Linked DNA regions of Homo sapiens. The gene in region 2 interacts genetically with the main gene of each other region. Each region holds a gene or a part of one and is shown on either strand. Other genes may lie near its edges.

Region 1 (2,672 bases), on a different chromosome or scaffold from region 2:
GGATCAGGTGGATCACCTGCCGGATCTGAGACTCAGGGATGGCTCTGTCAGCTGTGCTGACGTCTATCACTGTTTCCAGCAGCCTCAACACCAAGTCTGGCTGTCGGAAGAGGGCCCTGTTACTCCCCAGGCAGGCTACCCACTCGTCCGAGAAGGCCCACTTCTTCTCAGAGGCAAAAATGTAGCACACTTCCATATGGCGGTCCATCTTCTGCTGGATGACGGCCATGGCAATGGAAGCTGTGATATCCTCCAAGGCCCTGTTCTTCAGCACCGTGCTCGTTTTCCTCAGGAAGTCCCTGACACACTCCGCCAGCTCAGAGACCACCTGCCTGTCCTCCTTGGACAGGCTGGTGCGGTTCAGGTAGAGCGTCGCGTTCTGGCTGAAGGAAGTCAGACTGTCGCACAGCCGGTAGCTGTCGTAACTTGTCCCCTGGCTGCTGCGGAGCACGGCCTGCAACTCCTCCCCCCACTCCCGCAGCAGGTGGTGCAGGAACTCGCAGCCCACGAAAATGGTCTCACTGGGGAGTTTGGCCAGCGAGGTCAGGCTGACATCCCGTTCTGCCTCCTTCACCTTCTCTGCCAGCGCCTGCTGGTGGTAGGGATTCTGGGTGTCCGAGTTCCACACAGAGATCACCGTGGCCAGTTTGTCCAGATACACGGTTGCAGACACCTCCTGGGGGTCGTCCTCTGTCAGCGCAAACACAGTCAGCATGTCAGCCAGGTTGGCCAGCGCACAGCACTTCCTCCCCGGGCCCAGGATCCGACTCTGGATCTGTGTCAGCCCGCGGAGCAGCATGGCCAACAGGGGCATGGTGGGGCACGCGTCTGGGTCTGACCTAAGCCTCTTTGGAGGATGGGGGAACTCATCTAAGGCAGGCAGGTACTTATGGGCCATTGCACTAAACTGGGAGAGCAGGGGGTCCTGCGGGTGACCCTTGTGCTTCATCACCTCCCACCAGACGTCCAGGAAGAAGGCCACGTCTTCGGCAGAAGTGTCAACGGTCACATGTTCCAGAAAGCGCTCTAGTTCTGCATGGCAGATGGTGGTGGGCAGGGCCATCAGGAGCTGGATAAAGAGTCCAGAAGCTTCCAGGGATTTGAGCAGCTCGAAGAGGATGGTGTGGTTGATGGTGGGGATCATGTTGCCCACCGAGAAGAACAGGTCTTCCTGCCACCGTGTCTCTGTGTCGGACGGGGTCACGGGGTGCGGCTGCAGAACCTTGGCCCAGATGATGATCAGGGCTTTCTTCTTCCAGGCAAAGGGCTGGGAGTGTGCTGCAGCCGAGGAGATCTCCCTTAAGGCCTCCACGATGGGCCGTCCAACACGTTCCCAGTCAGACTTTGTTAATTCTGCCAGTGCCTTAGGGTGGAACAGCTGCTCGGCCAGCAAGAAGCCTCCATGCAGAATAGTCATTTCTTCACAGATGTTCAAGGGTCCTGCACACAGACAAGCCAAATAAGACAGTATAGTGAAAATGTTTCCAGATGGCCACTGCTGTTAGTAGGCTGTCATGGTTTGAGATGACAAGGGTTTTAAAGGACATCAGCGGACGGGGAGAAGGGATGACTACAAGAGCCACTGCACAGCTGGAGTCAGAAGGACTTGGCCGAGGAATCCAGAATGGCTTCCGAGCTCTCCAGCCTGGGAACTGGGAGGCCACCAGGTGACATCACATACAGGGAATGGAGGAGAATCAGAGCAGGTGTGAGGAAAGATGAGTTCAGCTTTGGCCATCAAGGTACAGATGTCCTCCAGCAACGGAAATGCCAGGTGGAAGTTCAGGAGGGAAGTAAGCTGGGAAATGTGATTCTGAGAGGTATCTGCCCAGAGGGGATCACCGGAACCAAGACGGTGAATGAGATCCTTCAGGAAAAGTGTGTGAAAAGAAAAAGCTGGGCTGCTGAGGCGAGACCCTCCAGCAAAGGCTGGGCCAGCAGAGGATGTGGGGAGAGGGGTTTAGAAATAGGAGGACAGTACAAACTACAGGGGCCACTGAGCATGTACCACAGGACATGACAGCTGAGCTTCTCATGACAGATGAAGGGAGCATAGCCACAGGGTAATGGGCACAGAGCAATCACACAGCCACAGGGTAACAGGCACAGCAGCAATCACACGGCCACAGGATAATGGGCACAGAGCAATCACACAGCCACAGGGTAATGGGCACAGAGCAATCACACAGCCACAGGGTAATGGGCACAGCAGCAATCACACAGCCACAGGATAATGGGCACAGCAGCAATCACACAGCCACAGGGTAATGGGCACAGAAGCAATCACACGGCTACAGGATAATGGGCACAGAGCAATCACACAGCCACAGGATAATGGGCACAGAGCAATCACACGGCCACAGGATAATGGGCACAGAGCAATCACACGGCCACAGGGTAATGGGCACAGCAGCAATCACACGGCCACAGGGTAATGGGCACAGAGCAATCACACGGCCACAGGATAATGGGCACAGAGCAATCACACGGCCACAGGATAATGGGCACAGAGCAATCACACGGCCACAGGATAATGGGCACAGAGCAATCACACGGCCACAGGGTAATGGGCACAGAGCAATCACACGGCCACAGGGTAATGGGCACAGAGCAATCACACGGCCACAGGATAATGGGCACAGAGCAATCACACGGCCACAGGGTAATGGGCA
Region 2 (5,436 bases):
CTAGCAACGTTTTCTCACCTTAAGTCTATCCAGCTTGGGTCATAACCAGATTCCAAATTGCTTTCTTTCCTTTAGTGGGCTGGGGGTTAAGAGGTCTTTTCCTCTTTTGCACCCCAAGGACCTGTCAGGTTTCTTGATAAAAGAATCCATGGGCTTGGAATTAAAATGTAATATTCATTCACACATTTACCTCAGTTTCCTGCCTGCTCTTTGAGTAATTTGGAACATAAAATAACATTTATCATCATTAGTTTATCTATGGCAAGAAATTTGACAAAGGAATGCAAAACTTCTTAAGAGAAAATTTTCTTCTGCTTGCAAGATATAGAAATAAACAGGCCTGAAAGCATCAGAAAATGGATTCTCCAAGAAATGCCATTTAAGTCACTTTCTCCAAGAGCATGAAGACCTGACAACTCTCAGAGAAAGTTTATTTCAGGAAGACATGTGTGACATGATACCCTTGGCATTCTCAACTGGGTAGAAAACCGCTGGCTGACTACTACTGGGTATTATTTTTGATATGTGTACTTGTCTCATTCAACTGAAAGTAACATTACACCAATCACTTGACCCTTCTACTCAGCTAAAACAAAACACACAGAAAAGAAGGGACAGCTTTTGGGTTGAATTTCTCAATAAGTGCAAGGGATACCAGGTAACCAGAATAAAGCTACTTTGTAACCGTTACCTCTAACATTACAATAGCTAAATGTTGATAGCAAAAAAGGAGAAATAGGAATGAAAGCATCTGCCATTACTGCAATTTGTATTAGCTATCCTGTTCACTTGTGTGACCCACCTCTTCTAAGGGGAAGCTACGGTATTTTATCAGTAATCCTAGTCAATCAGCTGAAATAGGCATTAAACAGAAACAGAATTTGAAAAACCATCCCTGTGTATTTAGCAAATATGCATCTTAAATTTAGGGCCCAAATGCTCACAGATTTCCACTAGTGCCATATGGAAAAAACTAACACACTAATGCCAAAGGGAACTATTTTGTTCAATGCTTTGTTTGGATTTTGGGGGTTTGGTTCCATAACCATCCTGGTGACATTCCTTTGAAAATGGTTTAACAGAAAATATTCTACTATACATTGCTCAGTACTGAAGGAAAGGGGACAGTGCAATCTAAGAGTCCAGGGAGGTGGCAAAGACCACCAGTTCCAACCCTGGAGGTATTCGCTCATGCCCCAGGACCAGCAACATTAGACAGGTAAAGTTTATCTAGAGAGGACAACATGAAGCCCACTGTTACCCATGCTGGAGAGCTCACTGCTGCCTGGTGCTTGACTACTAAATATTTTTTAAAAATTGCATTTCAATCATTTAACTAAGCAGTTAAAATCAGAATTACCTAATTTAAACGTTTCCCCTGGAAGGCACTTCTTTACCCTGTATATATTTTCCTCTATTAAACAAATAATGCATGCATGTTTAGCAAAATATACAGGGACACATAAACAGACTAGTAATTACTTAGCGTAGTGCTTTCTGATTCCAGATTACTTCTTATCTTAACTTCATTTTTATTTCTTTTCTTCATTCTTCCGTTTCAAATTCTGACTTCTTTCATCTTCCCCACTTCACACAAATTGCTCAATATTCTACAAGTGGGACTTCTGGTCTGATAATTAGCATGCATTCTTTCTTTTATTTTTTCAAATTTCAGCTTCACTTATTCCTGAGCTTCAAATACTCATTTATAAAACTTGTCAAATGACGACTTCCGCATTTTCCTTCTTCAACATTAACCTTAATAGAAAAAGAACAGGATGAAGAATATTTTAAAACTCCAGGATAAAATCCAGTGCCAAAACTGAAACTAGAAAAAAAAAATCCCTTTGTTGATTTGGATTAAAAAAAAAAAAAAAGAAACTAGAATATGCAGCTCAAAAAACTGAAAACTACATAGTTTTCTGCTGGTTCTAGAATATATGGTAATCTCATTTCTCTACTCCAAATAGACTTATCATGCTTAAGTTGAATGTGAAGTGCGCCACTGAACATTTACTGTTCATTTAACATTTTAAGAACTATTAGTTACATTTCACACTTCTTATTATATTCAATAGAAAATAGGTTAAGTGTCAAAAGCACACCTCTAGTCAAAAAGTGACACATTAATACATAAGTGCATGAAAGGAAAGCACGGACAATTCATTTGTACAATGACAAACGCTCAGGGTTGAAGAGGTTTACAGTATTGTGACTTGTCTAGATAGGATAAAGAAACGTATTTAGCGTCACACATTTTTGTACTGTATTTAAAGAGCTCTGCAGAAAGACGGTGTCAGGGAACCTGACAATTTGGAGCTTAAGTGTAACCCACCCCCTGGAAAAGCTGCTCTAGTGAGATTTTATAGTATGAATCATAAAAAGACAAAATCAAGTCAACCACCTACAATATGCCAGTAGCTATGAAGGAAAGCAGAACAAACTTGAATCCAACACTGGTATTTTCAAAGAGTTTTGTTGTACATTTTCCCCCTCAATTTAGAAAATATTAAGTCTTCTGGATGTCCAAAGGAGAAATACTACTTTAAAAGGTGGCACTATTTAAATTACAGCTCACCTCCTCAAATAATTAAAAAGATTGAATTTAGTTGATCTGTAAATGTCTGTTGAACATACTAAACAAAATAAAATACTGCCTACATAAAACATGCTAGTTTTTCTTGTTATCCTACATTTCACTTTGATGATCTTTCATTTTATTGTCAATTACTTCCTCTCCTGGTTTTTCCTCCTGAAAAAAATGTAAGGCTTTGTTTAAAAAAATTGCAAGTCTTTATACCTATCTGGGCATAAAGACAACCATCGTTAATCTGGCAAGTGCTGTGATGTCTTTCCTAACAAAAGGATAATTTCCAGTCTAGTTTTAGAGTCAATTATTGTTTATTTAATCCGAAAATTTTTAAATATGTTTTTATTTAAGGGAGTTACAGTAATTGGCTTTCTTTAAATCTCCATCACTAAAATGCAATGGGAAATGTTTTCTGGCAGCACAAATGTAATCATGGAATCAGAATGCCCAAGCAGGTTTCCTTAGGGCCTCCTAAAACTTCGATACAGACAGGGCACTTAGATGCAGAAGATACAAGAATAGAGGCCATAGCTCTAGCTATCACAACTGTTTTCAATGTGGATACCTTCCTGCTGTTACTTCATTACCCCTTCCTAACCTGGTTCCTTCTCTTATAGTCTAAGAACAAAACCATTACTAAATTATTATAAATATTAGATTTAATTCAACTCAGCTAAGTTCAAGTGGCTACTTTATAAAACCAGAAGATCAACTCTTGGGCTAATGTTATGTACATTTAGTTAAGAGACCCTAGTTAGAAATAAACAGAAACTTGTCCTATCAACACAATTTTTGTTAAAATGTTTCTAGGGGATACAACTAGAATCCATTTAACATTAAACATGCACAAACTCATTAAGTTGACTGACAAGGCAATATTTTAAAAATTGGGAGGGACAGGGGCAAAGAAAACCTCATTAATCCTGTTATGGAAAGGTCAATGCTCATATCAATATAATAAGGACTATATTTTTTTCTGGCAGCCAAACTGTCTACCAGAAGAGTAAATGGATAAGTAAATCCTCAAAAACTGGAGAATAGTGTCTGGAAAAAAACATCATCTGAAATTAGTTGTAGGCCTGTGCTTATAAAAACTCTCTTGTAAATATAGCACAGACTGTTAAATTTACATTCATAAAACAGTCAGTACTCCCCAACAAAAGCAAATATAAATATCTTTTGACTTTTCAGAAGACTACCTTTTAACCTAATTTCTAACCACAAAAATTAGAGAAAAAGGGGCCCCTTATCCAAACTGTCAGGTAACAATCTATGTTGATAACATCAATCTCAATGTAACCTCCAAAACCCAATTCAAAGCAAAGATTTTGGGGGAATTTCAAGACTGTAATTTGCTACAGTGAAGAACTTCTTTTGGTTTGCAGTTTAAAAACAAGACTAAGTGATTTCAATATCTAATTCTACATAGCCCACACCCCCAATACTAACCTGGGTCAAAACACTTAAAATTCCTAAACATCAGTCACCATGCCTTGTTAAAAAAACAGTCGCATATGTAAAAACACTGATCAACATAAAATGCTAAGGCTCAAGAAATATACACAGCTGTAGCTCTGCCCTTGTCCTGGGCAAAATAGCTATGAAAGCATTAATATTTACCACCTACGTTCGGATTTTATTGTAGAGAAAGGAGGAAAAAACGCTATGTAAGGCAAATCCCATTAACACTTCCCCCACCACCTGAATTCCTTTTCAACCTTTTGGCAAAACCAGTAGTACTTACCTTATAAAATCACCTGTAATGTCAGCTTGAAAATGTCACGTTCTAGTTCCAGACAATATCCACAATATTAAAGCATTCTTGTTTAAAACCAAGAAAAAAATATTTCAACCGGGTTTCAAGAGACTGATAAACCTAACCAGACTCACAATACAAAACAATTTCCTCCTATTTGACAATTCAATCCTTTTTTAAAGGAAATTTGGTGAGATGGCTGCAATTCTTTAGAAAGAAGTAGATTCAGAGATGTTTCAGTTTTGAAAATTAGAATTTAGAGTTTAGGAGCTAAAACCAAGGAATATAAAAAGACATCCCAAGATTCAGCAGAAGATGAGAAAAACTGCAGAATTTGAAAAGCAGTTTGATGGGTTGGTGTCCAGATGCTGCTATTCATCTCTAATGATAAAGATTACGTGCCTATGTTGCAATCACATCGGCTTTACAAAAATAATAGCCAGTATTCTATCAGAGTATCTGCTGGGTCAAAACATTTTCTTTAACATCTGGTCCATACATCAGTGTCTCCTTAGTTTCTGGATTCCTTTAGTAAAGACTCACTCGTAGAAACTCATTACAATATTGAGAGGCTCAGAACATTACACTGCGTGCAAGACCAACATACAAATCTCACACAACCTATACGCTGTGACCATTATTGGGCTCTAAAGATTACCCTGCACTTCATCAACTTTTTATTCAACTTCTTGTAATTGTGACTTAAAGGCCAGGAGTGCCTCTTTTTACAAAGAAATGGTGCTAGTCAACCCCTTTACAAAATGCAAGCAATTTTGGGGGAAGAGTCTTGAATCCGGAGATGAAAACGAGATCTTACTTTTGAAAGTGGTTTGGCCAGATCAGGTTAAGCCTGCTAATTAGACCCCTATAGACAGATTTTAGTGTTAATCTATTACCTTTGAGAGGGGGGAAAAAATAAATCCCACAGACCAACGAGGGATGAGGGACACACCAGTTCTTTAAATGTCATTATATTCACCCAAATGTATTCTATTGAGTGATCAAACTGAGAATAATTTATCCCACACACCCAACCTTAAAGGGGAGGGACACAACAACAAACTCCTACAGTCACTGGAAAAGGTGGGGC
Region 3 (3,500 bases), on a different chromosome or scaffold from region 2:
GGAAGTCTGTTTAAGAAGCAGGTCCCCACAGTCCTGTCCCACCTCCCATCCCCTCCAAGCGGCCGGGTGACTACCCTTCTTCCAACTTGGCAGATGGTTAAAAGGTTACTCTCCCGAGATTTATTCTTAGGAAGGAATAAGCCAGAGAGTACCTTGACTGTGGGACACCAGGCACACTGCAGGGGTAGGTAGGGGGAGCCATACTGAAAAGAGGGATTAAGAGAAAGTTCACAGTCTGAAGAGAGACACCACCCGAGCCTTCCCCCACCTGGCTTCTAGATTGGCAGCCAAAGAGAGTGGAAGTGCCCTCTCTATGGTGCGTGACCAATTAAGAGAAAAGACATTGGAAAAAAAAAAAGCCTAGTCAATTAATTCTGAGAAAATGAACAAGCATCACTCATTTGCAGAGCTTCCACTAAGCCTTTTAGTGTTTTATTCTTAAATATATGAGTGGATGGCCAAGGTCACTAAGCATAGGAAGAAACCCCCTGGTAAGAAAGACACGGGTCAGGCGCGGTGCCTCATGTCTGTCTGCAAGCCCAGCACCTGGGCAGGCTGAGATGGGAGGATAGCTTGAACCCAGGGAGCTGAGGCTACGGTGAGCCATGATCGCACTGCTACACTTCAGCCTGGGTGACATAGACTCTGTCTCAAAGAAGAAAGAAAGAAAGAGAGGAGACAGAGAGAGAGAGGAAAAAAGAGAAAGACAAGACAGAAGAGCAGAAAAAGCCACGTGGAGGAAACAGTAGCCACAAAGGAATGGAGTGGTTCTGCAGCTGTAAACATGAGAAGAGGCTAGGATCCAACCTGCAAACCTTCAGTATAGGCGTGTCTTTGAGTTTATAGGCAAATGAGGGAGGAATAAGGGCAGAGGAGGAAGGGAGAGGAGACCTCGTGAAGCCTGGGGGAGTCAGAAGGCTTGGTAAGAGTGATGCCAACAATGAGTCTTCAATTAGGAAAGGGAGGCAGGAGGAATGTTGGTATAGGAAAAACATGTAAGGACACGAAGCCAAGAAATAGCATCTACTCATGGGAGTCAGCTTCTAGCTTGGTGGTGTTGAGCATACATCCAAGGCAGGAAGAGGTGGCTGGGGAGGAGGGAAGAGCCAGGAAACAGAGTGCAGGTGTCTTCTGAGGGATGGGGAGCTAGTGAAACTGTCAGGCTGGAAGCCAGTCAAGACACAGTACTGGCGGGTGGAGATGAGGGCTGGGACCATGTCCGGTCCACCCAGGTGGCGCTCTCTGGCCCTGGGTCCCTTCCTTTCCTATAACTTCCCCAATGATCCTTTTATTCTTTGTTTACTTCTTGCACAGGGGTGAGTAAGGAGGTAAAATCTGAAGTAGTGAATTTAGCCTTTCTTGTTCTCATAAAGAATTCAGAGTTTTTGAAAAATTATTTAATAAAAGTAACAACTGCAAGTTTAGAAGTACAGAGAAACGTAAAATGGAAAATGTGTTCCTTCCCCCAAGTCCCCTCACCTGTAGTAACTGCTGTTAATACTTTCCTAAGTTCCTTCTGGGAATTACATATGAATGTCATTTCAAAAATTTATACAAATTGAGATCACGTCGTACTTGACTTTTTTCACTGATTAGTCTCTTTTGGCCACCTTTCCATACTGCACATAAAGATCTACCTCATTAAGGCAGCTGCAGAAAATTGCATCTTGTGGATGCAGCATAACTGATGGAACTGGTTTTCTGTTGATGGTCTTCTAGCTGTTTTTCTTATTCTTGCTATTACCAGCACAGTGCTGGGGTTAGCATCTTTGTGTAGGAGTAAGTTTATGATCAGATAAATCCCAGCAGTAGAATTGCTGGGGCATAGGGTACAAACATTTTTTATAGTGATAGTTATGCTAAATTTAGAGCACTACGTCTTTTTAGCTAACTCTTTTCCAAAATTCAGTCCTTGTAGACTAGACTGCTTCAGTTAACCTAAAATGGCCTATAAATCTGCCACCCAGAAAGCATTAAACAAAAATTAAAGTTGTAGACGGATTCTACAAGTACCCATGGATATGAAATGGAAACAGGGCCTCTCCCTTCACTCCTCCCAGCTCCCTTGCAAAGCTGTGTAATATTCCACTTTATGAACGTGCTGTCGTTTATGTAAACAGTTTCTTGCTCAAGGACACCGTCATTGTTTCTGCATTTTGCTGTTGGAATCAGCACTGCAGCAAGCATCTTTGCCCATGCTATCTTGGTGAACTCTTGGTAGTCTCTGTGGGGGTAAATTTCTAGCAATGGGATATGTGAATCTGTTTGGGTCACTATGAGCAAAGAATGCCCTGATCTATGCTTCCACCAACAGTTTTTGTGTCTTTCCCCATCACCTGCCATCACCATTAAACTTTTAACTTTGGCAAATCTCATAGGTCAGAAATGATATATTGATCTTTCATTAAGTTAGGTAAAGCATCCCTTCATAGGCGATTTTATATGTCACTTTTATTTTTCCCTATAAACTGTCCATTTCTCTGTTAGATTTTTTTATGTACAGAAAGGAAATAATGTGTGTCAAATGTACTGTAAATACTTCCTCCAGGTTGTTGCTTTTCTTTTGACTTTGTTCATAGTCATGGTTTTTCTATTTGTTTTTCATTCAGATGCATATAATTTCATGTAGTCAGATTTGTTAGGCCTTTCCCTTATGGCTTCTGAGTTTTGGTCCTACTTAGAAAGGCTTTCCCACTCTAAAATTATAGGTATTGATCTCTTTTTTCTAGAACTTTCATGGTTCCATTTTTTACTTGTAATTCTTTGAGGCTCCTGGAATTTATTTTGGTGGGAAGAATAAGGGGGCCTCGGTTAGCCACATCTTCCCACTGCTGTTTTTGAATATTTGTTATTTTCCCTGCTTGCAGTGCCACCTTTACCATGCACTGAATTCCCACATGTTTTCTGATCTACTTATGGACATTCTCTCCTTCTCCAGCACCAAACTATTTTAGTTCTTAAATCTTCATGGTACATTTAATTATCTTTTAAGGTTAATTTTTCACCCTTCCTCTTTCTTGTCAGTATTTCCCTGGCCCTTCCTTTCCCGTGGAGTTTTCTAGCAGCCTGCCTGATGCTAGATCATGATGCTTTTGTTAATGGAACATTTCGTCTTTAATCTGCTTCTTTACTTCCAAGCCTGTTGATACTACTCATTGGCCAGGTCGTTGAGCCTCGCTTTTGAGTATTATAATCAGCATTTAATTAGTCTCTTTGCCTTTATGCTTATTTTATCTTGTGAATGTTATTTGGCTAATTTTTCTTTGTTCTCCATTCTTCTCAAATTGAGCCCAAACTTAGGCCTTTACTCAGGGATCTCTGCAGACCATTTTCAGATTGTCTGCCTGAATAACCCAACACAAAGCCCACAGAGGGTCCTCTTGCTGCAGGTGCTGTTGGGTGGGCGGAGTCCTCCAGGCTGGCAGACCCTCCAGCCCCTCCACTAGAAGTGCCCACAGAAATGCTGCACAGAGCCCTGTGAACCAGAGCCTCTCCTGTAC
Region 4 (4,191 bases), on a different chromosome or scaffold from region 2:
TCTGCTTGTTAAAGATTCAGAAATATTAGCAGGGAGGAAGTCCATTTGTTTATTTAACTCAATTAGTAGCAAATCTTATAACAATTTTAAAAAGCAAAGAGCCATGAGTGCTAAGGAAATAAAATGTGTTAATGAAGCTGAAAGGCCAAACTGCCATACAAAGTATTTTCATGAATAAACAATATTTTTTCCTAGACACATTCACCCACAATTGATTTAATTTGGGACCAACACAATAAAACCTTAGGAAAATATTATTCCTGGCTGGGTGCAGTGGCTCACGCCTGTAATCCCAGCATTTTGGGAGGCCTAGGTGGACGGATCACTTGAGCTCAGGAGTTCAAGACCAGCCTGCGCAAGATGGCGAGGCCTCGTCTCTACAAAAATACAAAAATGAGTTGGGGTTGTAGGGAAGTGGAGGTTGCAGTGAGCCAAGATTGAGCCCCTGCATTCCAGCCTAGTTGACAGAGCAAGACTCAGTTTCAAAAAAAGAATAAAAATTTTAAAAAAGAAAAGCCAGGCACGGTGGCTGACGCCTGTAATCCCAGCACTTTGGGAGGCTGAGGCAAGCGGATCACGAGGTCAGGAGTTCGAGACCAGCCTGGCCAATACGTTGAAACCTCATCTCTACTAAAAATACAAAAATTAGCTGGGCGTGCTGGCATGTGCCTGTACTCCCAGCTACTCAGGAGGCTGAGGCAGAAGAATCACTTGAACCCACGAGGTGGGGTTGCAGTGAGCCGAGATCGAGCCACTGCACTCCAGCCTGGGTGACAGAGCAAGACTCGTCATAAAAAAGAAAAAAAAAAAAGGAAAGGAAAATATCGTCTGGGCATGGTGGCTCACACCTGTAATCCCAGCACTTTGGGAGGCCAAGCCGGGTGGACCACGAGGTCACGAGTTCAAGACCAGCCTGGCCAACATGGTGAAACTCCATCTCTACTAAAAATACAAAAATTAGCCAGGCATGGTGGCATGTGCCTGTTGTCCCAGCTACTCGGGAGGCTGAGGCAGGAGAATTGCTTGAACCCAGGAGGCAGAAGTTGCAGTAAGCTGAGCTCTCGCCACTGCACTCCAGCTCGGGTGACAGTATAAGACTTCGTCTCCAAAAAAAAAAAATGTATCTTTCCTAGAGCTAGATAGCTTTCTTTTTTATTTTATTTATTTATTTATTTATTTATTTATTATTATTATTTTTTGAGACAGAGTTTCGCTCTTGTTGCCCAAGCTGGCGCACTCTCGGCTCACTGCAACCTCTGCGCCCGGGTTCAAGCGATTCTCCTGCCTCAGACTCCAGAGTAGCTGGGATTACAAGCGCGCACCAGGGCTAGGTAGCTTTCTATGGAAAATGCAGGGGCTCTCCACACCAGGATTTGAAAACTTAATTTCGGCCGGGCGCCATGGCTCACTCCTGTAATCCCAGCACTTTGGGAGGCCGAGGCAGGCAAATCACCAGGTCAGGAAATAGAGACCATCGTGGCTAATATGGTGAAACCCCGTCTCTATTAAAAATACAAAAAATTAGCCGGGTATGGTGGCCTGCGCCTGTAGTCCCAGCTACCCGGGAGGCTGAGGCAGGAGAATCGCTTGAACCCGGGAAGCGGAGGTTGTAGTGAGCTCAGATCATGCCACTGTACTCCAGCCTGGGTGACAGAGCGAGACTCCATCTTGGAAAAAAAAAAAAAAAAGAAAACTCAATTTCATCCCCACCACTCATTACTGGTTTTGAGACTTTGGCCAAGTTAAGTTCACTAAATCGTGGTAAATCTTTAAAACGGGAGCACTAATCTCTACTTAGGGAGTTGTTATGAGAATTCAAAAAACAAAATGATGTTATCCCCCTGCACAGTATCTGTCACATAGTACATGCTCAAGATATATTAGTCTCAATTTTCTCATTAGTAAAACAAAGTAACGATACTTGATTCACTGGCATGCAACAATAATTAATTTTTGTAAAGCTCCCCAAACGGTATTTAGCACATAGTCGACAGTCAATTAATAAAAAAGTATGATTAAATCTACATCCCCTTTCCCAGTCCTTTTTCTGCCACTAAATGGCTAAATGATGTTGGGCAAATCATAACTTACAGAGCACTCAGTTTTCTGTAAACGAGGGGTGACACCAGACAACTTTTATGATGCTCTGCTTGTTTAAATGTATTACTCAGGACTTTCAAAGTTAGCTTTTGGATGCTACACAGATTTACCTGTAAATCCATTACATCACCATGGTGTCTGATATCACACAATAACTGATGGTCTCCTTCAAACCCTCCATCAGAGTCCAAGTTTCCAAAATCTCCAATAGACCACAGTGAAATATAATTTTCCTGTAAAACAGAAAGTTTTGTCTTGAGATGACATAAACGTCAACTCTCGGAAAATAAAAGTTGTGCTCCCGTCCGGAAATGTTGCTCCAAAACATCTCAAATGGTATGGTGAGTTTAAAACACAACGAGATACGAGGCTCAGGCATGCCATCACCGGCTCTGAGCTACGGAGCAACCGCGCCTGAGACAGGGGTCCGGGGGACCTAAAAGTGCGAGAAGAACCAGAAGGTGGGAGTTGGCGCGCGGAAGGCCAGGGGTCAGCTCAACCGGAGAGAGGGAGGAGGTAGGGGCTCGTCCCTATCAGCGGCGATACCTCATTGTCCCAAGATCCTGTAGCGAACGTCTCCGCGGTCTGTAAACTTCCCGGAGGCAGCGGTCGCCAGCGGGTTTTGCTGATTTTCTGGGACACAAACTTCGCATAAATTTCCTCCATGCCGAAAGCGGCCGCAGCAGGTACTGCAAAAAGCAAGCACAGTACGCGCCTCTCAGCACCGCCTCTTCCCGCGGAACCCTGATTGGATGGGACTTTAGGACGGAGACGGTGGCTGCAGAGAGTCAATTCTCGTCGATAGCCAGTGTGGGCACAGTCAGTACCTAGACTGAGAGGCCCACCCATCTCACAGAGCAGCTCTGAGCAAAGGCAAGAGCGCTTTGGCCTTTGAGCAGTAGGACTTGCTCCTAATCTGCAATGTCAGTATTTTCTTGTGTTCAATAATTGTGCAGTGTAAAATTTAAGTGCAAAAACAGAACAAAAACAATGCAGTAGAAACCACCTTGAAACCACACCTAAGCAGTTGCAGGTCACTGCGCATAGAAAACGATTCAAAAATCCTTAAATACTCGTGGAAGTACCTCGAATAAAGTGCCAACCTACTATCCCAAACCTCTCCCTCTTGTCTCCCAAACAAATACTTTGCTTCAAAGTTAATACACACTGTCAGAGCCTGGAGTTGGAATTCTGAAAGACTCCAGTTTTAGTTTTGATGCCAATTGCCTAGCTTTGATCAATTCAATTACGTGCATGATTAAGAATGAAGTTTGTGATACCTATTGTCAACGGCCCAGGAATCAGTTTTCTAGGTTCCTTCTGTGCTTTTGGTTACACCTATAATATTCTTCCCTTCCTCTTTACTCCTCAGAATCCTGCCTATCCTTCAAGGATCTGTTCTTTCCTTTACCATTTCCTGACGACCCCAGCCAATGTTGATCTAAATCAACACCATTTTTTTTCTTTTTTAAGACAGGGTCTCTGTGGCCCAAGCTGGAGTGCAGTGGTACAATCTCAGCTCACTGCAACCTCTGCCTCCGCCTCCCAGGTTCAAGTGATTCTCCCACCTCAGCTTCCAGGGTAGCTGGGACTACAGGTGTGCGCCACCATGCCTGGCTAATTTTTTTTTTTTTTTTTTGGAGAGACGGGATTTCACCATATTGGCCAGGCTGGTCTCGAACTCTTGACCTCAGGTGATCCAACTGCCTTGTCCTCCCAAAGTGCTGGGATTACAGGCGTGAGCTAGCATTTGATATCTAGACCACTAATGACATATATTTTGGATATATCTTATGTTAGTTTTCTTTAGATGCATATTCCTCCCCCATTAGAATGTAAATCCTACTGAATACAAGAGATATGACTTATTCAACTAAAAAATGAAGCTCTTTTACACTATAGGTATTCATAACTGTATGTTGGTTATTTCTTTAAAAAGGGCCATTATGCTACTGTTGTTTTTATGTGATATTGGTAGTCCTACTTCACAGGGACAGTTTACGGAAGCACTGCATGTAAATGCAATCCATCTGGGTCAGCTTTAGAGTTACCAGTTTCCTATCAAGGATTTGACTTTTTTCTTTTCTCCAA

The links. A genetic interaction does not mean that the proteins touch.
Region 1: changes in TRA2B (region 2) and GEMIN4 together harm fitness less than expected from each alone (positive genetic interaction), as found in Homo sapiens cells (one large-scale study listed by BioGRID).
Region 3: changes in TRA2B (region 2) and MED9 together harm fitness less than expected from each alone (positive genetic interaction), as found in Homo sapiens cells (one large-scale study listed by BioGRID).
Region 4: changes in TRA2B (region 2) and NUP43 together harm fitness more than expected from each alone (negative genetic interaction), as found in Homo sapiens cells (one large-scale study listed by BioGRID).

What each region holds. Positions count from the first base shown.
Region 1 is NC_000017.11:746,593-749,264, forward strand, and holds part of GEMIN4 (gem-associated protein 4), read right to left. Parts: intron 1,441-2,672; coding exon 1-1,440. UniProt on the Homo sapiens protein: The SMN complex catalyzes the assembly of small nuclear ribonucleoproteins (snRNPs), the building blocks of the spliceosome, and thereby plays an important role in the splicing of cellular pre-mRNAs.
Region 2 is NC_000003.12:185,930,095-185,935,530, forward strand, and holds part of TRA2B (transformer-2 protein homolog beta), read right to left. Parts: intron 1,667-5,436; exon of another isoform or gene 1,483-1,666; intron 1-1,482. UniProt on the Homo sapiens protein: Sequence-specific RNA-binding protein which participates in the control of pre-mRNA splicing. Can either activate or suppress exon inclusion. Acts additively with RBMX to promote exon 7 inclusion of the survival motor neuron SMN2.
Region 3 is NC_000017.11:17,480,000-17,483,499, forward strand, and holds part of MED9 (mediator of RNA polymerase II transcription subunit 9), read left to right. Parts: intron 1-3,500.
Region 4 is NC_000006.12:149,743,730-149,747,920, forward strand, and holds the start of NUP43 (nucleoporin Nup43), read right to left. Parts: upstream 2,801-4,191; 5' UTR 2,767-2,800; coding exon 2,647-2,766; intron 2,334-2,646; coding exon 2,211-2,333; intron 1-2,210. UniProt on the Homo sapiens protein: Component of the Nup107-160 subcomplex of the nuclear pore complex (NPC). The Nup107-160 subcomplex is required for the assembly of a functional NPC.